Regions from separate parts of the Homo sapiens genome. Here region 2 is linked to region 1. Evidence: fine-mapped expression QTL. A gene starts in region 1. The other region holds a variant in brackets. All regions are shown on one strand. Distances are between the middles of the regions. Region 1 holds the start of TMPO (thymopoietin). Region 2 has its middle 20 kb from the start of SLC25A3.

Region 1 (15,393 bases):
GCGCCACCACGCCAGGCTAATTTTGTATTTTTAGTAGAGACGGGGTTTCTCCACATGGTCTCAAATTCCCGACCTCAGGTGATCTGCCTGCCTCAGCCTCCCAAAGTGCTGGGATTACAGGCGTGAGCCACCGGGCCCACCTCCAGATGATTTTTTTTTAAGTTATGGGAAAGTTTTCTGATTTAAAAAAAAAAAAAATTGCATCAGGCCAGACGCAGTGGCTCATGCCTGTAATCCCAGCAATTTGGGAGGCTGAGGCGGGTGGATTGCCTGAGGTCAGGAGTTTGAGACCAGCCTGGTCAACATGGTGAAACTCTTGTCTCTACTATATTACAAAAAAATTAGCTGGGCGTGGCAGCAGGCGCCTGTAATCCCAGCTACTTGGGAGGCTGAGGCAGAAGAATTGCTTGAACCTGGGAGGCAGAGGTTACAGTGGGCTGAGATTGTGCTACTGCACTCCAGGCTCGGCAACAGAGGGAGACTCCATTTCCAAAAAAAAAAAAAAAAAAATTTGCATCCACCAGGCACAGTGGCTCATGCCTGTAATCCCAGAACTTTGGGAGGCTGAGGCGGGTGGATCACCTGAGGTCAGGAGTTCAAGACCAGCCTGGTCAACATGGTGAAACCCAGTCTCTACTAAAATACAAACAAATTAGATGAGTGTATTAGCAGGCGCCTGTAGTCCCAGCTACTCTGGAGGCTGGGGCAAGGAGAATTGCTTGAACCTGGGAGGCGGAGGTTGCAGTGAGCCGAGACTACGTCACTGCACTCCAGCCTAGTCTCTGTTGGACATTCTGACCACAGTCAGAATATTAAGACTTCTAAAAACTCTCATTTCCCTGTGAAATTTTCTGAATTAAAATTACTTTTATCTACCAATGACCTGGAACACCCCGAGCCCCCCAACCCCCACTTTTATTAATAGTTGTCCCGCCTTTCTGGAAGGGACCAATCTACATCTTACACATATTGATTTTAGAGACAGGGTCTCACTCTGTCACCCAGGCTGGAATGCAGTGACAGGATTATGGCTCACTGCAGCCTCAACCTCCCAGGCTCAAGTGATCCTCCCACCTCAGTCTCCCTAGTAGCTAGAACTACAGGTGGGCACCATGGCTAAATTTTGTATTTTTTTGTAGAGAGGGGGTTTTACTGTTTTGCCCAGGCTAGTCTTGAACTCCTAAGCTCAAGGGATCCGCCTGTCTCAGCCTCCCAAAGTGTTGGGATTACAGGCGTGAGCCACAGTGCTCAGCCTTTGTGTTTTTTGTGTCACATTGATCAAATATTTTAAAAATTATCTTTTATGTTGAAACAAGTATTAAGGAGATGATGGAAAGAGTCAATTCCTTGAGAAGGGTGAGAGCCAGAGTACAAGTGGTGGAATTTCCTTCTGACAGGACACATCTTTCACTGAAAAGAAAAATGCAAGAGAAAATGAATGCAAATTGGAAAGTCTGACGTTGAAGCATTCCTCATAGGTGGTTTTTATTTTTTGAAGTTGAGGCAAGGTCACCAGCTAAAAATGAGAGGTAGGGAAAAAGGATGTGAAATTTGAGGAGATGTGAACGTATGAATGGTTAACCCAGAGACTGGAATAGCATTGCCAGCCAGTGTTGAGTGCTCCTGAGAGGACTGAGGTCATGAATTAAAACCAGTTAGCTTGTTATATGACTGACTTTTCTCCAGCAGCTTTTGCTGTTTGGATGTAAGCAATGAGAAAGTTCAGCTGGAGCATGGTTTAGTCCAAGCAAGGCTGAGATTCTTTCAAGCAAAAAAGGAGACATTGAGATCAGAGAGTTGAAAATGTTTGTAAAAGAGTGATGAAAAGGACTGATCAGGGAATTTAAGTCAGGTGAGTTGCAAAATTATTACATGATGGCAGAAGCAGAAGAGTTGAGTTTTTTTAAGTGTTGGGGTTAATAGCGTGGAGGTCTTAATTAGGTAAGTGAGAGTACCATAAATTAGCTGGGAAAAAAAGGCTAGTGATTGACAATTGGGAAGCTTGAAACTGAGATTTCAACTGATGACAAGGTTCAGAATCTGACTGATACCGAAGTGGTTAAGACGCAAGAGAGGAACAAATTGTTGGAGATGAAGAGGTCAGAGGTCTAAGAGGCCAAGTGTTGGTGTTGCATGGGTCACCTACAAGCATGCTGAATTCAGATAGAATGTAGACAAGAGGGATGGTGAGGAAAACCTACGGCAAGCAGCTCTATAATTTCTGGAAAGTGACCAGGAGGCTCGTGGATGATGGCAGGAAGGAGAGTAGAAAGTGATTTAGCCAGAAGATATGAACTTCAAATATTTTTGAAGCAGAAAAGAGCAGAAATGGTTTGGAAGTAGCAATCAGGACCAAAGAGACCACCCAAACTCAATAGCCCAACCTCTTAGCCTTAGGGTACGCAGAATCTGAAAAGTGTAATCTCAATTTTGGAGCTCTACAGCAGTAAATCTGCAAGTAACCACCTGTAGCTAATGTCCAGGGATTAAAAAAAAGATAATGAAAATGTTTTTGCCCAGGAAACATTAATTTCAGGCGTATCTAGAATGCAGTTCTTGCATTATACGTACTGGGTTACCAGTCATTGCAAAGTCATGGTCCTTTGCCTCTCAGCTCAGTTCCCCTTCTGAAGATAAAAACATTTGCCTATGTGTCCAGGGAAGCTGTGAGGACAAAAAACCAAGCAACTTTTACAAGGGATCATAAAAACCTACCTAACAACTTGCTAATTAAAACCTGATTTTTAATTTGCATTATTGAGCTTAATACCATTGCTTAAATGTATGTGAATACTGAGATTTTTATAAAGGAATTAGTTACCTCTAGGAAAATAATTATCACTAAAAGAAATAATATCGCAATTTGAATAAAAGTAAGTCGCTTAAATCATAGGAAACATTTTTAGTGAAGGCGTTTGTTTTAAATGTATTCTAACCTAGCAATGTAGAAAGCAGGCAAACATTTAAAAAAAATTTAACCAGTTTCTAAAACATAGTTTGGAGCTCAGATTCTGGGGAAATGATTAACACACCCTACATCCAAGGTCTCCTTTCCTTTCTAGAAAGAAAGCATCTTTAAACATACATATTCATCAGAAATACAAATATTTGTCATCAGTGATACTAATTTCCAGGCAAACATTTTAATTGCAGTCAATGTATTAGATTCTACCAGGTTTTAATTTGGATCGGTAATACGGGTTTGATTAGGGTTCTAGGCCTAATTATAGGTCACTAGTCTTCCTTTAGGATTATGCACCATCTGTTATTTTAAATTGACCATTGAGGGGGTTCCCAAGGGTTCTCCTTCGTTTTGTTATCAAACGTTAGGTTTAGGATTCTTGCGGGTGGTGGGATCCAAAGCCAGAGACGGTTTCAACAAAAATGCAAGCGCGAATTTGTCTTGCGTCTGAACGCACTGTTCAAATTAAACAATTTAGACATGCCCCAACTATGACACTAAGAAGTGAATGGTATAGTACACTTTTGTCACAAATTCAAGGGTAATTTAAGTGCCCGATTGTAGAGGTCTGGCTTCCCCTGGGTTTCTGGAACAAAAGAAGCGTTCGCGAGGAGAGGGGTAACTCCCCGCCCTCCCCCTCCCAAAGTAAATCAAATCAAGGAATATGAGTGCCTGCAGACAAGCCTCGCTTCTTTTCTTCCCCTTCAGGGCTAGCGTTTGGGGAAGGCAAGGCTGCGGCTACTCTTGGAGCTTCAGTGTCCCGGGAGGAAGAAAGGCCCAGCCAAGGGTCCTCACACTGGCGTGGAATTCGGCGCGTTCGTAGGCGATCGACCCCAGAGACGAAAGCTGCTTCTCAAGCTGGGGGAGGGAGAGGAAACGGCGCACAAAAGCAGTACGACCTGTCCCTTATCGGCGTCTAAGGGGAAGGGTGGAGAAAACGAAAACAGAAGCGGGCCGGGAGCCTCGGCTCCCGCCCCAGCGCCTTTTAAACTGCGTTTCTACCTCCTCTCGCTCAGCGCGGCGGCTAATGGAACCCGCGCGAGCCGTCTCGCCAATCACCGCCGCGCTTCCTCCCGTCGCCCGCCAATGGCGGCGCGCGTTCTTGGGGCGTGGGCGAAGCAGGCTGCTCGCCTCCTGCCTGTAGTGTGTGGGCTGGGGTTGGTGCGAGCTTCCAGCTTGGCCGCAGTTGGTTCGTAGTTCGGCTCTGGGGTCTTTTGTGTCCGGGTCTGGCTTGGCTTTGTGTCCGCGAGTTTTTGTTCCGCTCCGCAGCGCTCTTCCCGGGCAGGAGCCGTGAGGCTCGGAGGCGGCAGCGCGGTCCCCGGCCAGGAGCAAGCGCGCCGGCGTGAGCGGCGGCGGCAAAGGCTGTGGGGAGGGGGCTTCGCAGATCCCCGAGATGCCGGAGTTCCTGGAAGACCCCTCGGTCCTGACAAAAGACAAGTTGAAGAGTGAGTTGGTCGCCAACAATGTGACGCTGCCGGCCGGGGAGCAGCGCAAAGACGTGTACGTCCAGCTCTACCTGCAGCACCTCACGGCTCGCAACCGGCCGCCGCTCCCCGCCGGCACCAACAGCAAGGGGCCCCCGGACTTCTCCAGTGACGAAGAGCGCGAGCCCACCCCGGTCCTCGGCTCTGGGGCCGCCGCCGCGGGCCGGAGCCGAGCAGCCGTCGGCAGGGTAAGGACGCGGGGCCGGGGCTACAAAGGCGGGCGTTTGGCGGTTGCCGCGCGCGCTCGCCGCCGTTTGCAGCCCCTCCCTCCCGGGCGCCCCCTCGGGCCTCCCAGGTGCGGGGCTGTCCCTGCGCCCCCTCGCGTCGCCCCTTCCCCGCGGGGCTGCAGGCGCCGGAGCGGAGAGGCCAGAAGTTGGGGCCGCGGGGTTCGCGTTCTTTGACGTGTGGGTCTGGGAGGTGTGGAGTTGCGTTGGCGGCGGTTGTTTTGCACGCAGTCGACGCCGCTTCCCTGGACCACCAGCCGCCTGCAGCGGGCGTTTAGACGGGGACTTCCGTGCCCTTTCGAAAGCTCTGGAGGGGTGGCCCCAAAATGCTATAGGTTAAGTTCGAGCGTTTTCCCGCTTTATTAACTGAAATGACTCGCAGCAGAGTCTCAGAGCGCTCCCTGGAGGGCAACTGATGACACTCTAATTTCTAACCAAAATTTGAAATGAGGAAATTCCCGCCTTTTTATACTTTTGCGTGTGGAGGGCTTTTTGAACCGTTTATGTTTTCTAGTTTGTTTTAATTTTTCCCAGCAACAGGCCATCTTTTGGCGGAACAGGTTCATGCCGAATTAAAAGGAGCATTTTAAACTATATTTTTAGGCGCCTATTATAATTTTTTAGTTTTTATTTATTTATTTTTTTAGATGGAGTGTCGCACTTGTTGCCCAGGCTGGAGTGCAATGGCGAGATCTCGGCTCACCGCAACCTCCACCTCCCGGGTTCAAGCGATTCTCCTGCCTCAGCCTCCCGAGTAGCTGGGATTACAGGCATGCGCCGCCACGCCCGGCTGATTTGTGTATTTTTTAGTAGAGACGGGGTTTCTCCAAGTTGGTCAGGCTGGTCTCGAACTCCTGACCTCAGGTGGTCCTCCCGCCTCGGCCTCACAAAGTGCTGGGATAACAGGCGTGAGCCACCGGGCCCGGCCCTGCAAACAAATATTTGAAAATTGCAGTTTGGATTGCGTTTTCCCCACATATTGGTAAATTTTGCTTGAGGAAACGAAAGACTTAGGATTCAGGAAAAATTTATTTCATGACATTCTGGTGCATCAGTATTGCAATTTGGAATGTCTGATCCTGGTTAAATCTCAAATCGGCTCCAGCAAAGCATGTTTTGTTTCAGAATAGTTTGCTTTTTTACCTGTGGATTTTAATATGCTTTTTGTGGGTTTGCTTATGCCTGCCGAGTTACCAGGCTTCAAATCGTAATAGGATGAAGCTAAAACTAGTAATTGGTGTAACATAAAATGCCTTGTAAGAGACAGTGAATGTGGTGTTTGGAGTTGTTGGGAATGATCACTAGTTTAAACCGAAATTATTCCTTCCTTCAAATTTTACTTTAGTTTTTAAGGAACCTGTCTAATGTGTTTTCCCGGCTACTCAGGCAGAAATGAAAGACAAATGTAATAGACACATGTAAATTTAATTGAAAATCTTATTCTCGGCTTCAGAGAAGTTGAAAGTTTTACCAAACGTCTTCAGTCCGGTGTCTGGCACATAGTAGTGCCAAATATTTGTACAATAAATAAAAGACCAATCACACCTTATTGTTTAAACATCTTGTTTTGCGGAAAGCTTCTTTAATTTCTTAATAAACAAATTTACTTTTGAAATAAAAGCGTACCCGCTTACCCGTTATGTTTCCCTGCTCTGAAAAAGAAGGTAGTATTTAAACTCTTTAAGTAGAGTTGGTTGAGGCCGGGCGCGGTGGCTCACGCCTGTAAGCCCCGCACTTTGGGAGGCCCAGGCGGGTGGATCACCTGAGGTCAGGAGTTCTAGACCAGCCTGGCCCATATGGTGAAACCCCGTTTCTACTAAAGAAAAAAAATACAAAAATTAGCCGTGCCTGGTGGCGGCGGCCGAGGCAGGAGAATCGCTTGAACCCGGGAGGCGGAGGTTGCAGTGAGCCGAGATCGCGCCATCGCACTCCAGCCTGGGGGACAAGAGCGAGACTTCGTCTCAAAAAAAAAAAAAAAAAAAAGTTGTTTGAAAATAATATTTAAATCAGCACACTTTATAAAAAACCTAATTTTCTATAGAACCCTTCATTGGTCCTCTGTGCAAAAGTATTAAACCGTGAAGTTTTTGGTTGTATGTTTATAATAGAATTACTGGTTATTATTTTTAGGCGGGATCTCGCTTTGTTGCCCAGGCCGGAGTGCAGGGATGTGATCATAGCTTACTGCAGCCTCAAACTCTTTGGCTCACGAGAGCCTCCTGCCTCAGCTTCCCTGAGTAGCAAGGGCAACGGGGCATGCACCGCTACACCCGGCTAATTTTCTAATCTTTTTTTTTTTTTTTTTTTTTTTTGGTACACAGGCTTTCTGTGTTGTCCAGGCTGGTCTAGAACTCTTGGCCTCAAGCAATCCTGCCTCAGCCTTGGTTCCTATTTATTTTGAGGATGATTTCTTTTACACAGAAACAACCATCTCAGTTTTAATGTTTTCCTATCAGCCACTTGGTAAAAGAGAGTTTATGTCCCCATCTACCTTGTGTTCTTTTGGGGGGTAAGAAGACCTAAATGTAAAAATTTTTTAATTAAGATTATCCAGCAATTTTGAGTTCCTACCAAGTGTTCTTAACTACTGGGTTTAAAACTTTGGGGATTTAAAAATGAATTGTGTTTATTTACTTGTCTGTCCAACTCATATGTTAATTGAAGTTGGTTAGCATCATGTAAATAAGTTTTGAGTAAAATGAAGGGTTTTTTTTTTTTGAGACGAGTCTTGCTCTGTCGCCCAGTCTGGGGTGCGGTGGCGCGATCTTGGCTCACTGCAAGCTCTGCCTCGTGGGTTCATGCCATTTTCCTGCCTCCGCCTCCCGAGTAGCTGGGACTACAGGCGCCCGCCACCACCCCCCAGCTAATTTTTTGTATTTTTAGTAGAGATGGGGTTTCACCGTGTTAGCCAGGATGGCCTCGATCTCCTGACCTCGTGATCCTCCCGTCTCGGCTTCTCAAAGTGCTGGGATTACAGGCGTGAGCCACCGCGCCCAGCCAAAATGAAGTAATTTTTGTTGTTGTTATTTTGTTTTGTTTGTTTTGTTCTGAGACGGAGTCTCCATTGCCCAGGTTGGAGTGCAATGGCCCGATTTCATCTCTGCCTCCTGGGTTCAAATGATTCTCCTGCCTCGACCTCCCGAGTAGCTGGGATTACAGGCGTATACTACTATACCCGGCTAATTTTTGTATTTTTAGTAGAGAAGGGGTTTCGCCATGTTGGCCAGGCTGGTCTGGAACACCTGACCTCAGGTGATCTGTCCCCCTGGGCTTTCCAAAGTGCTGGGAATGCAAGGATGAGCGACGGCACCCAGCCCAGAAGTCATGTTTTTTAGAGTACCTAGTAGGTCTATTGGCATGGTAATTAAGCTCTTTACGTTTCATTTAATTATTTCATCCATATAAAGAAAACTTACTTCATAATTACAGGTTTAAATGTCTTCTACCTGGAGTATTTAAAACTCAAGAGGTGTTTACCCTTGACTGAGCTTAATAGCCATGCCAACAACTTGAAGAAAAATATTGGTAGTCAGCGTCATTTTCTGTTTTAAAGTACGTTAAGTACAAGTGAGTTATAATTAGGAGTCTGTTCGATGTTTTTATCAGCCATAGGAAAAAATAATTTTAAGTTTACAGGAAAAGAAATTTATAATAATTTATGTGTAAAATTATTCATGTCAATTCCTCTTATATGTACTATATTTTACGTTTTGGTCATTTTTAGCCCCATATAAAAATAATACCAGGTCATATTTCTTTTTTTTTCTTTCTTTCTTTTTTTCTTTTTCTTTTTTTGAGATGGAGTCTTGCTCTGTCACGCAGCCTAGAGTGCAGTGGCGTGATGTCAGCTCACTGCAACCTCTGCCTCCCGGGTTCAAGCGATTCTCCTGCCTCAGCCTCCCAAGTAGCTGGGATTACAGGTGCCCACCACTGCGCCCGGCTAATTTTTGTATTTTTAGTGGAGACGGGGTTTCACCATCTTGGCCAGGCTGGTCTCAAACTCCTGACCTCAGTTGATCCACCCGCCTGAGCCTCCCAAAGTGCTGGGATTACAGGCATGAGCCACCGCGCCCGGCCAACCATATTTTTCCCTTCCTTCCTTCCTTCCTTCCTTCCTTCCTTCCTTCTGTGTGTGTGAGAGATGGAGTCTCACTCTGTCACCCAGGCTGGAGTGCAGTGGCATGATCTCGGCTCACTGCAACCTCTGCCTCCCAAATTCAAGCAATTCTCCTACCTCAGCCTCCTGAGTAGCTGGTATTACTTACAGGCACACACCACTACTCCTGGTTAATTTTTGTATTTTTAGTAGAGACAAGGTTTCACCATGTTGGTCAGGCTGGTCTCGAACTCCTGACCTCGTGATCCACCTGCCTCGGCCTCCCAAAGTGCTGGAATTACAGGAGTGAGCCACCTCACCCGGCCAATACCAGGTCTTATTTCTTTTTTCCTTTTTTTTTTTGAAACGGAGTCTCAGTCTGTCATCCCAGCTGGAGTGCAGTGGTGCAATCTCGGCTCCCTGCAAGCTCTGCCTAGCTGAGACTACAGGTGCCCGCCACCACGCCTGGCTAATTTTATGTATTTTTAGTAAAGACTGTTAGCCAGGATGGTCTCTATCTCCTGATCTGGTGATCTGCCCGCCTCGGCCTCCCAGAGTTCTGGAATTACAGGCATGAGCCACCGCTCCCGGCCTCCAGGTCATATTTCTTAAAGAATATTTATAATCTTCTGCATAATGGAGTGGTAAAAAGGAATAAAAGAATATTTATTTATATTATAGGAGAAAGCCAAATTATGTTTGAGAGTTGCAGATAAGGGAGATTTTTAACATTTTAAGACAAATCAAGCATTAATGTGGATTTGGCCAAGATTAACTATTTGCATGCATATACCTTCTATTTAATCATGGGTTTATGAGGAATTTTTTTTTTTTTTTTTTTTTTTTTGAGACGGAGTGTCGCTCTGTCACCCAGGCTGGACTGCAGTGGCGTGATCTCCACTCACTGCAAGCTCTGCCTCCTGGGTTCACGCCATTCTCCTGCCTCAGCCTCCCGATTAGCTGGGGCTACGTGGTGGCACCTGCCACCACCCCCGGCTAATTTTTTTGTATTTTTAGTAGAGACGGAGTTTCACTGTGTTAGCCAGGATGGTCTGGATCTCCTGATCTTCTGATCCTCCCGCCTCAGCCTCCCAGAGTGCTGGGATTACAGACGTGAGCCACCGTGCCCAGCCTATGGGGAACATTTTTAATTAAATAAGAAATTGTTTCATTTCAGCTTCTACCATAGTCTCTTGGATTCACTTGGTATAATGTGACAAAACTTTGCATGTTAAAAGTTTTGTTTTTATTTTGTTTTCTTATTTCTAAGCTTTTTATTTTATGTATCTTGCTACCAATATTTTTAGGTGTTGAAACTACCTAGATTGTGGACACAAAAATAAACATTTACAGAGTTGGCAGTCTGCCTTTTTGTTTTAAGAGGCAGAGCCTGAAGGTGTAGCTATTTGGATCTAGTGGAGCATAATATTCTTGAATGATCTGTTCTGGTGAATTATGAGTGTGTGTTTGAGAAGGAGTCTTGCGCTGTCATCCAGGCTGGAGTGCAGTGGCGCGATCTCGGCTCACTGCAACCTCCACCTCCCGGGTTCAAGTGATTCTCCTGCCTCAGCCTCCTGAGGAGCTGGGATTACAAGCGTGCACCACCATGCCCAGCTAATTTTTTTATTTTTAGTAGAGACAGTTTCACCATGTTGGTCAGGCCGGTCTCAAACTCCTTCCTGACTTTGTGATCTGCCCCCCTTAGCCTCCTAAAGTACTGGGATTACAGGCGTGAGCCACCACGCCTGTCTGTGTGTTTGTTTGTTTTTTTAAGAGATAGGGTCTCGCTCTGTCCCTCAGACTGTAGTGCAGTGGTATGATCATAGCTCACTGCAGCCTCAAACTCCTGGGCTCAAGCCTCTGGAATAGCTGGGACTACAGGTGTGTGCCACCATGCCTAGCTGATTTTTAAAATTTTTATAGAGATAGTCTCACTATGTTGACCAGGCTGGTCTTGAATTCCTGGCCTCAAGGGATCCTCCTGCTTAGGCCTCCCAAAGCGTTGGGATTGTAGGTGTGAGCTGCTGCTCCTGGCCAAATTATGAATTCTCAATAGGAAATATTTGAAGACCTGGAAAAGAACATAAAAGCATGCTACCAATAGGAAATGTTAATTAAATCACAAATTTACCACCACTGTATAATAAGGTGTTAAGTTTACAGACTTGTGAATAATAGAGTTATAGATTCAAATTCCAGGTCTGCCACTTATTCATATGACACTGAACAGTGTCTTAATCTAAGATCCTCTATTTTCACCTGAAATAGAGGAATAACCTAATAGCTACTTAATCAGATTGAGGAGTACATGCCATTGCATATGTGAAGTGTCTAGTGCTTAGTAATTAATAGCCATTAAATGATTTCTGAATTTTTGTCTTTAATGTCAGGGCAATATAGTGCAATGTTACTAAAATATAATTTTGGGAAACGAATAAGGTAGATAAGTGAAAGTGACATGTATATCATAGCATGCAGATTTCCTGAGTTAGTGAAGAGCATGCTTGAACCTCAGTTTTCTGAGTTGTCAGATGGGGATATTAGCATTTTATTCCATAGATTTTTAGGACTCTGTAAGTTAATGCAAAGACACTTGGAACACAACTCAGTACGTAATACATAATAAGTGCCCACTAGAATATATTGTTATGGTTCAACATCTTTATACTAGAGGTAGAGATTAAAGGAATTAGAGAAGCTCATCGGTGATATCATAGAGCTGTTGGGTTTTGAAGTTGAAAAATACGTTAGAGATCATCGGGTAGCATAGTAGGTACTATTTTTGAGTGAAACTCTTAAGTGATCTACTTAAAGGAACAAAGCTTTCTGGAGGCAGAATTTAATGCAACTGATGCTTCCTTTTTCCTGACTGAAACTGCTAATCATGTACAGCACACTGTCTCCTAATTTTTTATCCTTATTAAATCTGAGATTTATAAAATGACATCACTTTTCTGGAACTTTTTTCCTGACAGATTAAAAACCACATGTTTGACTGTGTGCAGTGGCTCACACCTGTAATCCCAGCACTTTGGGAGGCCGAGGCAGGTGGATCACCTGAGGTCAGGAATTCGAGACCAGCCTGGCCAACATGGTGAAATCCTGTCTCTTCTAAAAATACAAAAATTAGTTAGTCGGGTATGGTGTTGCGCGCTTGTAATTTCAGCTGCTTGGGAGGCTGAGGCAGGAGAATCTCTTGAACCTGGGAGATGGAGGGCATGCCACTGCACTCTAGCCTGGGCAACAGAGTGAGACTCCATCTCAAAAAAAAAAAAATCACGTTTTTGGTTTTAATTTATCTGACTTACCTTATGTAGATTTGTTGGTCACTTATTTAAGATATCTTTGTTCAGCTGATGTTTTTCATTATGTTTGAAGGAAATATAATTGATTTTCTTTCTTTCTTTTTTTTCTTTAGGCGAAGTCTGGCCTTATCACCCAGGCTGGAGTGCAGTGGCGCAATCTTGGCTCGCTGCAATCTCCGCCTCCCCAATTCAAGTGATTCTCCAGCCTCAGCCTGCCGAGTAGCTAGGACTATAGGCGTGTGCCATCACACCTGGCTAATTTTTGTATTTTTAGTAGAGATGGGGTTTCACCGTGTTGGCCAGGCTGGTCTCAAACTCCTGACCTCAACGGGAGATCCTCCCTCCTCGGCCTCCCAAAGTGCTAGAATTACAGACATGAGCCACTGCCGAGAATTGGTTTTTACTTAGATTTGATAGGCCTGTTATTTCTAATAAGAAATGGATTTTCAAAAATAAATTACTTTTTCCTTCCCCAGATTTGACAAAACATTTATCAGGGGGCTATTCCTGTATCAGTCTTTTTAGAAATGTTTAGATGCTTGGAATAAGAATATGAGGATGATAGTGCGTCTGCTTTCTGTTGCTTGCCTCAATGCTGCATCCAGATCACCTGGGCTACACAATTACAAACAGATTATCTGGCCCAAGGTGAAGAATCAGAAATGGGTAAGACCTTTCCAAATAGAGGTAACAAGAGTTAAGATTTTGGGCTGGGTGCTGTGGCTCACGCCTGTAATCCCAGCACTTTGGAAGGCTGAGGTGGGCAAATCACGAGCTCAGGAGTTTGAGACTAGCCTGGCCAAAATGGTGAAACCCTGTCTCTACTGAAAGTACAAAAATTAGCTGGGCGTGGTGGCATGCACCTGTAGTCCCAGATACTCAGGAGGCTGAGGCAGGAGAGTTGCTTGAACCTGGGAGGCAGAAGGTTGCAGCAAGGCAAGATGGCGCTACTGCACTCCAGCCTGGGCGAGAGAGTTAAGAGACTCCACCTTGAAAAAGAAAAAAAAAAAAGAGTTAAGATTTTTTTTGAGACAGAGTCTTGCTCTATCGCCCAGGCTGGAGGGCAGTGGCATGATGTCGACTCACTGCAACCTCCGCCTCCCAGATTCAAGCAATTCTCCTGCCTCAGCTTCCCAGGTAGCTGGGATTACAGGCATGTGCCACCACACCCGGCTAATTTTTGCATTTTTAAAAGAGACGGGGTTTCACCGTGTTGGCCATGCTGGTCTCGAACTCCTGACTTCAAGTGATCCACCCACCTTGGTCTCCCAAAGTGCTGGGATTACAGGCATGAGCCACTGCACCTGGCCCAAAGAGATTTCTTGAAAACCTCTCAGGCGGGTTTGAAAAGTTGGAATTTCCTGGATGTTTTATTGATAGTAAATTTGAACATTCTCGTGGTAGTGGGGATTATGTACAAATAATTTGAACCTGATTGATTGTTTTTCCATGTTTTATTTTTATTTTAAGCATTATTTAGTTTTTCTGTACTACCTGACTGCACTTTTTGGAAAATTTGAGTAAGTCAGTAACATAGGATTAAGTTTGTTTGATTAAATCTTTTCTTGAAAGAAATAAGTCTTAGAACTCTTAGACCCTAGGCAACTATTTGGATATTATGGTGTGGGTTGCTTCCAGATATGAGCCTGACAGTTCTAGGTCAGTGCAATGTATGTGAATTAAAGCCTGCTAAAAGTACTCTCACTGTAACTCTCCACAGCCGTCTATTTAAGATTTCTCGTAAGTTGACATAATTGTTCTTATGAGCAGCTATTTTTTTGGTGAAGGTTTTTTGGCTTCTGATTATAGAATGATTAGCCATTAGCAGCTTTTTAAAAAGAATTTCTCATATCTTGCTTTATTTGAAGTATTTCAGGCCAGGTTCCATGGCTCACGCCCGTAATCCTAGGACTTTGGGAGGCTCAGGCGGGCATAACATTTGGGGTCAGGAGTTCAAGACCAGCCTGGCCAACATGCTGAAACCCCGTCTCTACTAAAAATACAAAAATTAGCCGGGCGTGGTGGTGCACACCTGTAATCCCAGCTACTCAGGAGGCTGAGGCAGGAGAATCACTTGGACCTTGGATGCAGAGGTTGCAGTGAGCCAAGATTGCGCCACTGCACTCCAGCCTGGATAAGAGTGAGGCACAGTCTCAAAAAAAAAAAAAAAAAAGATTTGATTTGAGCCTGACAATTCTAGGTCAGAACATTTTTATTGTTAAAAACAGTAATTCCAGTACATAGTCAAATCATGACTGATTTTTCCCCCTAATATTATTGGAAAGTGAGCATTCCATACAACTTGATAATTTTAGCCTTTTTCGTAAAATTTACTTTGATGTTGCCATTGTTTAATTAGCCATTTTTTTGTTCAGTACTCTGATGTTTTTTCTGTGATCACTGAGGCATTTGTCAGGCTGTTTGCCACAGCCTTAAAAGGTATCCGTACTTTTGCTTCCTTTTTATTTGTTCAACCTTGGAAATTTATAGTTTTTCCAGTAAATACTGCCTTTGTAGAAATTAATTTTAAAACTTTCAAATTTTCCCTCAAAGTTTGTTTCAAGTTATTTTGACTATTTTTAGTAAACTGGTGGTACAGAAGTTAATCTGGTGACTAAACTGTGTCACAGGTGATAATTTAACCATGAAGTCTGTCAGATTTCCTTCCTAAGTCATAAACTAGCTACTAAAATAACTGTGTTACAAGGAGTTTACAGTCCTGTCTCCTATCCTTGGGGTGGAGATTGGTTCCAGGACCCGGCCATGGATATCAAACTCTGGGGATGCTTTAGTAAGTCCCTTAATATAAAGTGGTGTAGTAACCTACACACATCCTCCCTTATACTTCAGATCATCTCTAGATTACTTATAACGCCTAATACAATGTAAGTGCTATGTAAATAGTTGTTATACTGTATTTTTGTTAGTGTTTTTATTGTCGTATTGTCTTTTTTTTCCCCAAGTATTTTTGATCTGTGGTTGGTTGAATTCACATATGTAGAACCCAACTGTATTCATTTGGGAGAATGGAGAGCCAACTGTATTCATTTGGCCTTCTTAAGTTCTCATATGCTGTTTAAAGAAAATCATTTCTGGCCGGGCGCAGTGGCTCATGCCTGTAATCCCAGCACTTTGGGAGGCTGAGGTGGGCAGATAACGAGGTCAAGAGATCGAGACCATTCTGGCCAACATGTTGAAACCCCGTCTCTACTAAAAGTACAAAAATTAGCTGGGCGTGGTGGCGCACACCTGTACTCTCAGCTACTCGGGAGGCTGAGGCAGGAGAATCGCTTGAACCCGGGAGTCGGAGGTTGCAGTGAGC
Region 2 (15,356 bases), 55 kb after region 1:
GTGGTGTGTATCTGTAGCCCCAGCTACTCAGCAGGCTGAGGCCAAAGGATCCCTTGAGTCCAGGAGTTTGAGGCTGCAGTGTGCTATGATCACACCTGTGAATAGCTCTACTGCACTCCAGGCCTGGGCAATACAGTGAAACCCTGTCTCAAAAAAAAGTCAAAACAATTTTTTAAATAAAGTAGATATAACAGAAAAACATTATATATATGGTATTATAACTAAATGTTTTCTTATAGATTGTTTTGTTTTTATAAATAAGTCACTTTTGGGCTATTGTGCATTTTTACCATACCAAAGAGAATGTCTGATAGTAGTCCCAAAGTATTTGCTTATTATTGTCTGGTACTCCTTTATTAGTCAAGAATGTTGCTGACATTTTTACTTGGGTAATTTCTAACTTCCCAATATTCTACAAATAGAATTTTAGTTTTGTGTGCAGAGATCTTTCTACAGTATTTTCATACTATACTACCCTGTATTAGGTAGCTTCGAATTGAGGAAAAATTTGCAGATGAATTCGTAATATTCCTGATCTTTTTCTCATTACAAACTATGTAAATTTTACGGTAAAATTTTGAAGCAACCAAAAGTAACTATTTTTATACTGCAGTGTCAACTGCTGTAGTAAATTCTAATCCAGCTAAAACATGGACAGTGAGAACCCCAAACATTTCGCACAATAAGAATTAATAAGCAGGCTTTAGTTAGGCCGTTTACTTCAGGATTTAAAAAATAATACGTAGTCATATGGCCACAAACTGGTATTCCAGCCATTGAGTTTATGATTTTACAAAAAGAGTACACTAGATGTCGCTGTGAAACTCAGTGTAGTTTGTAATCGTTCTGCTATAGGAGAGCTCTGTGAAGTAGTCTGTCATTTGTTATTAATATGTGAGTTGCTGGCTGGGTGAGGTGGCTCGCGCCTGTAATCCCAGCACTTTAGGAGGCTGAGGTGGGCGGATCGCTTGAGCTCAAGAGTTGGAGATCAGCCTGGGCAAAAGCGTGAAACCATGTCTTAAAAAAAAAAAAAAAAAAAAAAAATTGTAGGCCGGGTGCAGTGGCTCACACCTGTAATCCCAGCACTTTGGGAGGCTGAGGCGGGTGGGATTGCCTGAGGTCAGGAGTTCGAGACCAGCCTGGCCAACATGGTGAAACCTTGTCTCTACCACAAGTACAAAAATTAGCTGGGTGTGGCGGCCGGCGCCTGTAATCTCAGCTACTCGGGAGACTGAGGGAGGAGAATCGCTTGAACACAGGAGGTGGAGGTTGCAGTGAGCTGAGATGGCGCCATTGCACTCCAGCCTGGGCGACAGAGTGACACTCCGTCTCAAAAAAACAAAACAAAACAAAAAGTGAATTGCTGTTAGTTTTGGTCTTCTTTTATTATTACTTTTTTATTTTTTTTTATTTTGAGACGGAGTCTTGCTCTGTCACCCAGGCGGAGACTGCAGTGGTGCGATCTCGGCTCACTGCAACCTCTGCCATCCAGGTTCAAGCGATTCTCCTGCTTCAGCCTCCTGAGTAGCTGGGATTACAGGCGTGAGCCATCTCGCCCAGCCGACAAAATATTTAAAAATTAGCCAGGTGTAGTGGCGTGTACCTGTAGTCCCAGCTACTCGGGAGACTGAGGCAGGAGGACCCCTTGAGGCCAGGAGGTCAAGGCTGCAGGGAGCTGTGATTATACCACTGCACTCCAGCCTGGGTGACAGAGTGAGACCCTGTCTCAAAAAAAGAAAAAGAAAAAAGAAACAATGAAAAGTCTCCCTTTCACCTCTGACCCCCACTCTCCAGTTCCCCACCCCATAGGCAACCAATGTTATTAGTTTTTGTGTGTGTATCTTTCCAGAGATATCACATGCACACACACACACACACACACACACACACACACACACACACACACACACAATTTTACTCTTCTCTTTCATAGGTGGTGTCATAATCTACCTACTATTTAATACCTTTAATGTTTCATTTAACAATGTTTGGAATCTTTTGACGTCAGTACAAAAGGTTTCATTTTATTTATTTATATTTATTAGCAGTTTCATAGTGTTCCATGTGTGGCTGTAGCATAATTTATTTAACCCTATTGATCGATTACTGCATTGTTTCCCATCTGTTGTAGTTATAAGTAATGCTACAATGAATCATCTTGTACCCATATCATTTTGCACATGTGCTGTAATTGTAAGAATAGTTCCCCAAAATGAAATAAATGGACCAAAGAGTCTATGAGTTTTTTCTTTTAAGAGATAGGGTCTTGGCCAGGCGTGGTGGCTCACATCTGTAATTCCAGCACTTTGGGAGGCCGAGGTGGGTGGATCGCTTGAGCCCAAGAGTTTGAGACCAGCCTGGGAAAAATGGCGAAAACTCGTCGCTATAAAAAAAAAAAATACAAAAATTAGCCGGGCATGGTTGCATGTACCTGTGCTCCCAGCTACTTTGGAGGCTGAGGTGGGAGGATCACTTCAGCCCAGGAGGCAGAGGCTGCAGTGAGCCATGATGGCGCCACTGTACTTCAGCCTGGGTGGCAGAGTGAGACTCTGTCTCAGAAAGAGAGGGAAAGAGAGAAAGAGATGAAGTCTCACTACGTTGCCCAGGTGATCTTCCCACCTCAGCCTCTGGAGTAGCTGGAACCCCAAGAAAACACCACCGTGGCTGGCTTGTGATTTTTGATAGACAGATGTTGTCTGCATAATATGCCTTGACAGCCAGGATGCTCTTACTGTCACTTTCTCTGCCCTCTCAACTTATAGGGGTGCGCACGTGTGTGTGTTGTTGTTATAAACAAAAATATCTATAACCATGTAAAGTTGTTGATGTAGTTTGGCTGTGTCCCCACCCAAATCTCATCTTGAATTGTAGCTCCCACAATTCCCACCTGTCGTGGGAGGGACCCAGTGGGAGGTAATTGAATCCTGGGGTTGGGTCTTTCCCATGCTGTTCTTGTAAGTTTCATGAGATCTAATGGTTTTATTTATTTATTTATTTATTTATTTATTTATTTATTTAGACAGAGTCTTGCTCTGTCACCCAGGCTAGAGTGCAATGGCGTGATCTTGGCTCACTGCAACCTCCACCTCCCCAGTTCAAGCAATTCTCCTGCCTCAGCCTCCCGAGTAGCTGGGACTACAGGCGCCCACCACCACGCCTGGCTAATTTTTGTATTTTTAGTACAGACAGAGTTTCACCATGTTGGCCGGGATGGTCTCAATCACTTGACCTCATGATCCGCCCACCTCAGCCTCCCAAAGTGCTGGGATTACAGGCGTGAGCCACCGTGCCTGGCGGAGATCTAATGGTTTTATAAGGGGGAGTTTCCTTGCACAAGTTCTCTTTTGTCTGCCACCATGTAAGACATGCCTTTCGCCTTCCACCATGATTGTGAGGC[C/T]TCCCCAGCCATGTGGAACTGTGAGTCCATTAAACCTCTTTTTCTTTATAAATTACCCAGCCTCAGGTATGTCTTTATCAGCATTGCGAAAACAGATTAATACAGTTGTTTAATCCTAAATGGGGCTGGAGCCAGCTGTATTATTTTAGATTATGAGGTTTTAAAATTCTGGTTCTTCTCATTTTTATCTGTTATCTATCCCTCCTTTTAGCTGCCAGCTGACTCGGTATCTAATAGCCTCTCCTTTGATCCCTATTAATTTTTATCTTCTAACCTTTTGGTGGTTCAAAATGCTGATCTCCAAGCTTACTAGGTTTCAGCCAAGAAAAGATCAAACTGTACTCACTAACATTATGATTTATTTCTCAAACTAGAGATCAGAATTCTACTTTTGTTTCAAATTTGTAATCTGAGTTATTCACAGTCTGTTTTTTTTTTTTTTGAGAGGGAGTCTTGCTCTGTCGCCCCAGCTGGAGTGCAGTGGCACAATCTCGGCTCACTGCAACCTCCGCCTCCTGGGTTCAAGCGATTCTCCTGCCTCAGCCTCCCGAGTAGCTGGGATTACAGGTGCCCACCAAAATGCCCGGCTAATTTTTGTATTTTAGTAGAGACGAGGTTTCACCATGTTGGTCAGGCTGGTCCCAACCTCCTGACCTCGTGATCCGCCTGCCTCAGCCTCCCAAAGTGCTGGGATTACAGTCGTGAGCCACTGTGCCCTGCCTATTCACAGTCTTTGTATGTGTTTTCTTCCCAGTGAGGCTTTAATTTTTCTTTTTTTTTTGAGATGGAGTTTCGCTGTTGTTGCCCAGGCTGGAGTGCAATAGCATGATCTTGGCTCACTGCAACCTCTGCCTCCCAGGTTCAAGCAATTCTCCTGCCTCAGCCTCCCGAGTAGCTGGGATTACAGGCATGCACCACCACGCCTGGCTAATTTTGTATTTTTAGTAGAGATGGGGTTTCTCCATGTTGAGGCTGGTCTCGAACTCCTGATCTCAGGTGATCCACCCGCCTCAGCCTCCCAAAGTGCTGGGATTACAGGCTTGAGCCACCGTGCCCAGCTGCTTTAATGTTGTTTTGTTAATTAACCATATAAATCTTGATGTAAGAGGACTTTAACAAAGCTGAACATAAAGAATTGAGTTTATGTATGCATTAAATCCATCAAGTGAGCATTCAAATGTTCTCTCTATAGTATGTTATTTCAGGGTCTAAATGTGTTGCTACAATAGATTGCTTTCAAACAGAACTCCTATATTGCTGTGCTGGTTAAGCTATTGTTTCTCCGCTCCAAACCCACTCCTCTATAGTTTCTGACAGTTGGGCTGAGACAATGCAAAAGACTATTATAGGCTCACCTGAACAGGGGGTAGTAAAGGAGATTGGACGGCAGGAGGAGGATGGGACTTGGCTGCTGCTCCTGTCCCACCTCTTCACATCACTTCTTCCTCCCTTCACTCTGGCAGCAACAGTTGGTTTGTACCCAGCTTTTTTTTTTTTTTTTTTTTAGACAGAGTCTAGCTCCATTGCCCGGGCTGGAGTGCAGTGGTGCGATCTTGGCTCACTGCAACCTCTGCTTCCCGGATTCAAGAGATTATCCTGCCTCAGCCTCCCGGGTAGCTGGGATTACAGGTGCCCGCCACCATGCCTGGCTAATTTTTGTATTTTTAGTAGGGATGGGGTTTCACTGTGTTGGCCAGGTTGGTCTCGAACTCCTGACCTCGTGATCTGCCCGCATTGGCCTCCTAAAGTGCTGGGATTAAAAGCATGAGCCACCAGGCCTGGCCTTTTTTTTTTTTTTTTTTTTTTTTTTTTTTTTTGAGACAGGGTCTCACTCTGTCACCCAGGTTGGAGTGCAGTGGCGCAATCTCAGCTCACCACACAGCCTCTGCCTCCCAGGTTCAAGGGATTCTCCTGCCTCAGCCACCAGAGTAGGTGGAATTATAGGCACATGACACCATGACTGACTAACTTTTTTTTTTTTTTTTTTGAGACGGAGTTTGGCTCTTGTTGCCCAGACTGGAGTGCAAGGGGTGCACGACCTCAGCTCACTGCAACCTCCACCTCCCAGGTTGAAGCGATTCTCCTGCCTCAACCTCCCAAGTAGCTGGGATTACAGGCATGTGCCACCATGCCCAGCTAATTTTGTATTTTTAATAGAGACGTGGTCATGTTCCCCAGGCTGGTCTCAAACTCCTGACCTCAGGTTATCTACCAGCCTCGGCCTCCCAAAATGCTGGGATTACAGGCATGAGCCACTGCACCCGGCCTATGCCATTAGATCTTAATAGAAGGGAGAAGGTTGAAATTGTGGTGTCTTGAAATAGCCCAGCTGGTAAACAACTAGAAGAGTTTTGTGATACAGCCAGTATGTTTGGGTTATTTTTACACTAGATAACCTGGAAAGTACTTTGATATGAGCAAAAATGTTAAAAGGATATTTTGGCTAGCATACCCAGTTTTTCTAGCATTTCCAGAATCAGCCTCATTGAGTTCCTTTGGAGACAAGCTCTAGCCAGGCAGTGCCTTCTCAGAGGTTTGGGTCCTAGTTCCACAGGGAACTGCCCGCTGCTAAATTCTAACTCCAACCTCTTCCCTTTGTGCCTCCACCACTAGGGGTGGTAGCTCTTTCTGCAGTTATTATGTGTGCAGACTCAGTCTTCTCTCGGTGCCTTTAAACTTCTCCAGTGCCCATTTAATCTATTCCCATAGGCAACACTGTTAAAATAATGGTGTGGTTTATTTTTTTTCCTGATAGAATGATTATAGTCACAGTTTTATCAAGGAAAAGAGCATAAAATGCTCTACTTAACTATATACAGTGTATTTTTAATTAATACCTTGTTCGGAAAAATTATAATTGTGTTTTTCCCATTGTCTCACTCAATAACACAACAACAATAAACACAGCAGACTTTTGTGACCAAATGTGGAGGATTTCTCCCCACCAAGAAACAAGCAATCAATTCTGCAGCAGACACCAGCTGAATGTCCTCTAATTCAATTCCAACATCATTTACCTGGAGATAGTGCCAGATCCCACAGGTTGAGGGCTCAGTCTCCAAACCTGCCCCCCACTTCAGACACCCTAGCAAGTCTGGGCCTCTGGAACTTCTGACCAACTGGCTTCAAGTTGGGGTTCCCAGAATTCCCTCTTTGGGTTCAATTAATTTGCATGTGTGGCTCACAGAACTCAAGGAAACATTTATTTACATTTACTGGTTTATCATAAAGGATATTACAAATAATACAGATGATGAGCTGCATAGGGCAAGTTATGGGGGAGGGGGCGTAGTGCTTCCATGCTCTCCCCAAGCACACCACTCTCCAGGAAACTCCACATGTTCCCCTGCCCTCTTGGGACTTTTTATGCGGACTTCATTGGATAGGCATGATTGAAGCATGGACAACCGTGTGATTGGACAAAAGGTGTATGCTCTAAACCCAGAAAGATTATTATTATTATTTTTTGAGACAGGCTTGTACTTCCATTGCCCAGGCTGGAGTGCAGTGGCGCCATCTTGGCTCACTGCAACCTCCACCTCCCAGGTTCAAGCAATTATCCTGCTTCAGCTTGCCGAGTAGCTGGGATTACAGGTGCACACCACTATACCCGGCTAATTTTTGTATTTTTTGTAGAGACAGGGTTTTACCATGTTGACCAGACTGGTCTGGAACTCCAGAGCTCAAGTGATCCACCCGCCTTGGCCTCCCAAAGTGTTGGTCCAGCAAGATTCTTCTTGGCCACTCTGTGCAACATTCCTTCCTCCAAGTTATGGGACAAGATTCTCTCTAGAATGATGAGATTAGAGTCCTGCCATGGGCAGGCCAAGGGAGGGCCGGAGAAGATCAGAGAGATTCTCTTTATTGTAACAGGGGCTATGGGAGTTATGAGCCAGGAACCATAGATCAAAACCTATATATATGTCACGCGCCTCAGATTTTATAGGTTAGTTCTGGCACAGTTTTAGTAAAAGTAACCACATTTGCTAAAATTGCTTCTTTTTTTTTTTTTTTCTGAGACGAATTCTCACTGTGTCACCCAGGCTTGAAGTGCAGTGGCATGATCTCGGCTCACTGCAGCCTCCACCTCCTGCGTTCAAGCTATTCTCCTGCCTCAGCCTCCCGAGTAGCTGGGATTACAGGCAAGGGCCACCACACCCAGCTAATTTTTGTTTTGTTTTTGAAACGGAATTTCGCTCTTATTACCCAGGCTGGAGTGCAATGGCATGATCTCAGCTTACTGCAACCTCCGCCTCCTGGGTTCAAACAATTTGCCTGCCTCAGCCTCCTGAGCAGCTGGGATTACAGGCGTGCATGCCACCATGCCCAGTTAATTTTTGTATTTTTACTAGAGACGGGTTTCACCGTGTTGGCCAGGCTGGTCTCAAACTTCTGACCTCCCAAAGTGCTGGGGTTACAGGCATGAGCCATCGCACCTGGCCTAAAATTGCTTCTTAACCATTTAGAAAATCTTGAAAACAAGGCATCTTGGAAAAGGGTCCCCTGAAAAACAATTGTTGTAAACTAAGCTGTTGGCTTCTGCAGGCTTCTAATACAATATAAATACTAAGGTAAACTGTAGGACAGATAAGTCTATTTTAGGCTATGACTCTGTAACATGGTGAGTACAAAGAATGTAACTGCTCTCTAGTGACCCTTGAACTTAGAACTGGAACCATATCTCAAATAGGTTTCTCTAAGGTAGGCTTGGCAGCATTAAATCATTCAGAAAATATTTATAGAACATTTTGGATACACATGGCTGGCACCCTAGGGGCAAGAGTCCACCGATGAGCAAACCAGACTCTTGTAGAACTTAGGATCTTATGACTAATGTAAAGGAACTAAATGCTTTCTCAGCCTGAGTAAATGGGACCAATTCAACCCTGCAGTTCAGAATGCCTGAAATGAATAGATTCAATAAGGTGAGTTATTCCTGAAGAAAGGATTAAGGAGTGCCCAGGTTCCTAAATAACATCGCCCTATAAAATGTACCAGGGCTTCTTGGAGAAATGACTGATGCTAGGGTTAGAGCATGAAAAGCACAGATAAGCGAGAAATATCTTGCATCAGAAAGTAAGGAAGGCCAGAAGCCATGGCTCATACCTGTAATCCCAGCACTTTGGGAGGCTGAGGCAGTAGGATCCCTTGAGCCCAGGAGTTTGAGACCAGCCTGGGCAACATAGCGAGACTCTTGTTTCTATAAAAATTTTTAAAAATTAAAATTAAAAATAAATATATAAATATTTTCTAAAAGAAAGTAAAGATATGCTCAAAAAGTAATGGGACATGTTAAAAGTACACAGGAGCCAGCTGGCAGGGGCTCCCAAATAGGATAATTTGAACATCAAAACAAAAGTAGGCTGGGTGCGGTGACTCACACCTGTAGTCCAAACAGTTTGGGAGGCTGAGGAGAGCAGATCACTTGAACCCAGAAGTTCAAGACTAGCCTGGGCAACATGGTGAAACCCTGTCTCTACAAAAAATACAAAAATAAGCTAGGTGTTGTGGCATGCGCCTGTAGTCCCAGCTATTTGGGAGGCTGTGATGAGAGGTTTGCTTGAGCCCATAAGTTTGAGGCTGCAGTGAGCTATGATTCCGCCAGTCTGCAGCACTGCACTCCAGCCCAGGTAAGCCCGTGTCAAAAAAAAAAAAAAAAAAAAGCCAGCGAAACACCTAACTAGTAATGTGTTATAATCTAGATTCCAGAGTCCATATCTATACTGATAACACATGAATGAATGAATAAAAAGGAAAGCTCATTCTTTTTGTTTTGTTTTGTTTTGAGACAGAGTCTTGCTCTGTCACCCAGGCTGGAGTGCAGTGGTGTGATCTTGGCTTGCTGCAACCTCTACCTCCCAAGTTAAAGTGATCCTCCCCACCTCAGCCTCCTGAGTAGCTGGGACTACAGGTGTGTGCCACCATGCCTGGATAATTTTTGTATATTTACTAGAGATAGGGTTTTGCCATTTTGGCCAGGCTGGTCTCGAACTCCTGGCCTTAAGTTATCTGCCTGCCTTGGCCTCCCAAAGTGCTGGAATTATAGGCGTGAGCTACCGTGCCCAGTGGAAGCTCATACTTATAGTAGAATGGTCAGCTAAAAAAAAATATAGAAGAAACAAAGATTTATTTTTTGTTGTTGTTGTTTTTGTTTTTGAGAAAAAGTCTCACTCTGTTGCCCAGGCTGGAGTGCAGTGGCACTACCTCGGCTCACTGCAACCTCTGCCTCCCAAATTCAAGTGATTCTCCTGCCTCAGCTTCCCGAGTAGTTGGGATTACAGGTGCCCACCACCACGGTGTGGTGCCTGGCTAATTTTTGCATATTTAGTAGAGATGGGGTTTCACCATGTTGGCCAGGCTGGTCTCAAACTCCTGACCTCAGGTGATCCACTTTAGTCTCCCAAAGTGCTGAGATTACAGGCATAAGCCATGCATCTGGCCTGAAGCAAAGATTTAGAAAATCATGTAATCATGGTAATTGTTGATTCAGGCAAGAATAATCAATAGATGTGAAAATTACTGGGTATGTGATTTTTGAAAAACAGGATATTTACATAGTCTCAAAAGTATCTCTTTATAAATTACTGGTTAATTACAAAGGGAAAAATAATAACTTTACAGTGAAGAAATTTGATAGACACCACCTTTAACTAAGTGATCAAAGTTAACCTCACCCTAGGAATGGTATAAATCACCAAGTGTTTCCTGAGGGGTGCACTGAGCAGAATACATCACTCACACAGTATCCCTTCTCTAAATGCACAACCTGAATGGAATCACAAAACTTCAGACAACTCTCAACTAAAGGAAATTTTACATAAATCGCTGGCCTGTACTCCTAAAAAATGTCAGGCCATTCTAAGTGGCATGAGATGGTATCTCACTGTGGTTTTGATTTGCATTTCTCTAATGACCAGTGATGATGAGCTTTTTTTCATATGTTTGTTGGCCGCATAAATGTCTTCTTTTGGGAAGTGTCTGTTCATATCCTTCACCCACTTTTTCATGGGGTTGTTTATTTTTTTCTTGTAAATTTGTTTAAGTTCCTTGTAGATTCTGGCGATCATTAAAAAGTTGGGAAACAACAGATGCTGGAGAGGATGTGGAGAAATAGGAACGCTTTTACACTGTTGGTGGGACTGTAAACTAGTTCAACCATTGTGGAAGACAGTGTGGCGATTCCTCAAGGATCTAGAACCAGAAATACTGTTTGACCCAGCAATCGCATTACTGGGCATATACCCAAAGGATTATAAATCATTCTATTATAAAGACACATGCACACATATGTTTATTGCAGCACTATTCACAATAGCAATGACTTGGAACCAACCCAAATGCCCATCAATGATAGACTGGATAAAGAAAATGTGGCACATATGCACCATGGAATACTATGCAGCCATAAAAAAGGATGAGTTCATGTCCTTTGCAGAGACATGGATGAAGCTGGAAACTATCATTCTCAGCAAACTAACACAGGAACAGAAAACCAAACACCGCATGTTCTCACTCATAAGGAGGAGTTGGATGATGAGAACACATGGACACAGGGAGGGGAACATCACACACTGGGGCCTGTTAGGGAAAGGGGGGCTAGGGGAGGGATAACATTAGGAGAAATACCTAATGTAGACGACAGCATGATGGGTGCAGCAAAACACCATGGCACGTATATACCTATGTAACAAACCTGCACGTTCTGCACATGTATCCCAGAACTTAAAGTATAAAAAAAAAATTATCTAGGGGTGACAGTGAGCAAAAATAAATAAATAAATAAGGCCAAGTGCCATAGCTCACGCCTGTAATCCTAGCACTTTGGGAGGCCCATGCTGGTGGGTCACTTTGAGCTCAGGAGTTTGAGACCAGCCTGGCCAACATGGTGAAACTTCATCTCCGCTAAAAATACAAAAATTAGCCAGGCATGGTGGCTCATACCTGTAATCCCAGCTACTTGGGAGGCTGAGATTGTAGGACTGCTTGAGCCAGGGAAACAGAGGTGGCAGTGAGCTGAGATGGTGCTGCCACCGCAGTCCAGTTTTAGCAAAGGGAGCTAAAGAGGCATGTGTACTAAATGCAATGTGTCATCCACGATTAGATACGGACCAGAAAAAAAGGCATTGTTGTAAATAAAGGACATTGTTGGGACAATTAGCAAATTTTGAATGTAGATTATAGGTTAGATTATTAGTATTAAATTTCCTGATTTTGATAATTATACTCTGCTTATGTAAGAGAATATCCTTGTCCCTAAGAAATGCACTCTGAGGCCGGGTGCGGTGGCTCACACCTGTAATCCCGGAACTTTGGGAGGCTGAGGCGGACAGATCACTTGAGGCCAGGAGTTTGAGATCAGCCTGACCAACATGGCAAAACCCCATCTCTACTAAAAATACAAAAACTAGCCAGGTGTGGTGGCACATGCCTATAGTCCCAGCTACTCAGGAGGCTGAGGCACGAGAATCACTTGAACCTCGGAGGTGGGGGTTGCAGTGAGCTGGGATCGTGCCACTGCACTCTAAGCCGGAGTGTCAGAGCAAGACTCTCCCCATCCCCCTCCCCCACAAAAAAAAGAAATGTACCTGAAGTATTTAGGGGCTAAACAGTATACTCTGCAGTTTACTCTCAAATGGTTCAAATTATATGGGTAGGTGGATGGGTGGAGGGATAATAGGTAAGTAGGTAGATAGATAAATAGATAGCCAGACATAGAGATAGATGGGAAAAAAAACTATTAAAGCAGTTGTGACGAAATATTAAAAACTGGTAAATCTGGATGAAGTATATATGAGTTATTTGTACTATTCTTACATCTTTTCTGTAAGTTTGAAATTATTTGAAAATTTAAAAACAATTATAATTAGAGGAGGAAGCACAGGGCTGTATTTTATACTGTAGTTTCTGAATGAACTCTGAATGATTACATCCAGATACTTACTACGGCCACCAGGAAAAAACATGCTAGCCTTTGGACTAGGTGTGGCTGTGATAGACATGATCCTGCTAACTACTGCTAGAAAAAATGGCTTTAACTCAACTAATCCAAAACCAAAATCATATTTTATGGATGACTGTTGCATTTCACTACCTTATAACTAAAAGTTGGATATAATAGTTTTGCTCATTGTTTCCTGGTGAACCTCATTGTTACCTTCTAAGAATGTCCACCAGGAAGCTACACATAGCTTATGTTATCTAGATTCAAAATCCATTCCAATGTATCTATTGAGTGTGGAGGAGACTGTTAGTACTATCTGAAAATCCATGTGCTCCTCCATATTTTCTCAGTCCTGTGTACCTGGGTGGTGTCACAGGATTAATTCTTGCCAAAAGAACATAAATGGAAGTGATGTGTCACTTTTACTCTGAGGCAGTTGAGTGCAGATGTGCCTTCTTGTTCCACCTCTTCCCCTTTAGCTGAACCTGTAGAGGTCATGTAGAGGTGGCAGAACCATAAAATGAAAGCAGCTTGAATCCCTGAGTCACCGCTTCAGGGAGAGTTCTCTGGAAAACCACCTGATCAGCACCAAACCTTACAGGAGCAAGAAATGTTATTGCATTATTTATTGTGTTATATTGTTAAGATTTTAGGTTAATTCGTTCATTCAAGATAGCCATATCGACTTACCATTCCTCTTTCTCTTCCCTCTTATTCCTTTTTCTTGTCTTTAAAAAACATTATTATTACTATTATTATAATTATTTTCTTCTCTTCAGGCAGGGCACGGCCAGTGAGACCTGTAAGGTTGGTACCAAGGAGGCACCCAGCAGGGTTAGGAAGTTGGTTACATACGGGGGTAATAAGTAAGTAAACGTATTGAAGATAATGAAAGCCAGGTTTATTATCTCTGTCAGAGAAGGGGGTTACAAATGTGGAAAGAAAAATAGACTGGAATGAACCCTGTGGTGTTGTGATTTGAAGATTTGAAATTGGAGATATCAGTGTGAACTCATGTGGTTTTTTGTTTTGTTTTGTTTTTTTCTTAGAGTCTCACTCTGTCACTCAGGCTGGAGTGCAATGGCATGATCTCTGCTCACTGCAACATCTGCCTCCAGGGTTCAAGCGATTCTGCTGTCTCAGCCTCCCGAGAAGCTGGGATTACAGGCGTGACCACCACACCCAGCTAATTTTTCTATTCTTGGTAGAGTCAGGGTTTCACCATGTTGGCCAGGCTGGTCTCGAGCTCCTGACCTCAAGCAATCCCCCTGCCTCGGGCTCCCAAAGTGTTGGGATTACAGACGTGAGCCACTGTGCCCATTCAGAACTCATGGTTTTTAAAAGAAAAGTTAGATGATAGACATAGATAGATAGATAGATAGATAGATAGATAGATGATAGGATAAAGATGGATAGAGATAAATGGATGACAGACAAAGATAGATATAGATTGATGGATGATAGAGATAGATCAGATAGATGGAGATGAATGATAGAGATGGATAGAGATAAGTGGATGGCAGAGATATAGATCAATGGATGACAGAGATAGATGATAGATAGATAGATAGATAGATAGATAGATAGATAGATAGATAGGCATGATAGACAGAGATGCATAGACAGAAATAAATGGATGAGGCTGGGCGTGGTTGCTCACACCTGTAATCCCAGCACATTGAGAGGCCGAGGTGGGCGGATCACCTGAGGTCAGGAGTTAGAGACCAGCCTGGCCAACATGGTGAAACCTCGTCTTTACTAAAATACAAAAATCTAGCCGGGCGTAGTGGCAGGTGCCTGTAATCCTAGCTACTTGGAATGCTGGGGCAAGAGAATCGCTTGAACCCAGGAGGTGGAGGTTGCAGTGAGCCGAGATTGTGCCACATTGCACTCCAGCCTGGGCGACAAGAGCAAGACTCCGTCTCAAAAGAAAAAAAAAAAAAAAGAAATTGGCCAGGCATGGTGGCTTACGCCTCTAATCTCAGCACTTTGGGAGGCCAAGGCAGGCAGATCACCTGAGGTCAGGAGTTTGAGACCAGCCTGACCAACATGGAGAAACCCTGTCTCTACTAAAATACAAAATTAGCTGGGCATGTTGGCACATGCCTATAATCCCAGCTACTGGGGAGGCTGAGGCTGGAGAATCGCTTGAACCGGGGAGGCAGAGGTTGCGGTGAGCGGAGATTGTGCCATTGCCCTCCAGTCTAGGGAACAAGAGCAAAACTTCGTCTCAAAAAAAAAACAAAAAAAACAAAAAAAATGGATGACAGAGATAGATGATAGATATAGAGAGATGGATGGTAGATAGAGATGATAGAGAAATAGATGACAGATAGATAGATAGATAGATAGATAGATAGATAGATAGATAGATAGATAGATATAGATGTGTACGTTATACAGTTGGCCCTCCATGTCCATGGGTTCTGAATCCATGGGCTCAGCCAGCTACAGATCAAACATATTAGGAATAAAAAATAACAATACAACAATAAAAAAAACAAATAAAAAATACAGTATAACAACTATTTACATAGCATTTACATCATAGTGCGTATTATAAGTGATCTAGAGATGATTAAAATATACCAGAGGATGTGTGTAAGTTATATGCAAATGCTATACCATTTTATGTAAGGCTCTTCTTGAGCATATGCAAATTTTGGTATCTGTGGGGCAGGAGAGTGGTGGGGGGCAGTCCTGGAACCAATCCCCCACTGATACGAGGGACAACTGTACATGCATTATGTATATGTGTATGTATATATATATATCCCCTGAAAGAGCCTAGAGGCAACAGCTTTGCAAAAGCAATGAGCATATTTTGCTCCCAGATCTTGGTTTATAGATGCTGTTCTCCTCTAAAAGAGACAAGAGCACTTTGGAGAAATGGCTGATTCCAAGGCTGAGGGGAGTAGAAAAAAGTATAAGCTTAGCTAGGAACATCTTGCTGTGCCAGGAAGTGAGGAAGTGATTAAAAAGTGATGAGGGCCAGATGCAACAGCTCACGCCTGTAAT

The links.
Region 2: its variant is fine-mapped to the expression of TMPO in stomach (GTEx, PIP 0.96).

Annotation. Positions count from the first base shown.
Region 1 is chr12:98,511,513-98,526,905 of GRCh38, forward strand. It overlaps TMPO (thymopoietin), which reads left to right and starts at 4,078. Exons shown (of 9, transcript NM_001032283.3): 1 at 4,078-4,634. The coding sequence starts at 4,356. It overlaps TMPO-AS1 (TMPO antisense RNA 1), which reads right to left and starts at 4,714. Exons shown (of 2, transcript NR_027157.1): 1 at 4,479-4,714; 2 at 1,461-4,385. RefSeq lists enhancers at 46-546, 3,698-3,777, 4,038-4,227 and silencers at 4,568-4,837, 6,891-6,950.
Region 2 is chr12:98,566,203-98,581,558 of GRCh38, forward strand. No RefSeq gene overlaps it. Among named protein-coding and RNA genes, the nearest start is that of SLC25A3, 20 kb to the right of the region's middle. The variant C/T (reference allele first, on the strand shown) is at 3,398.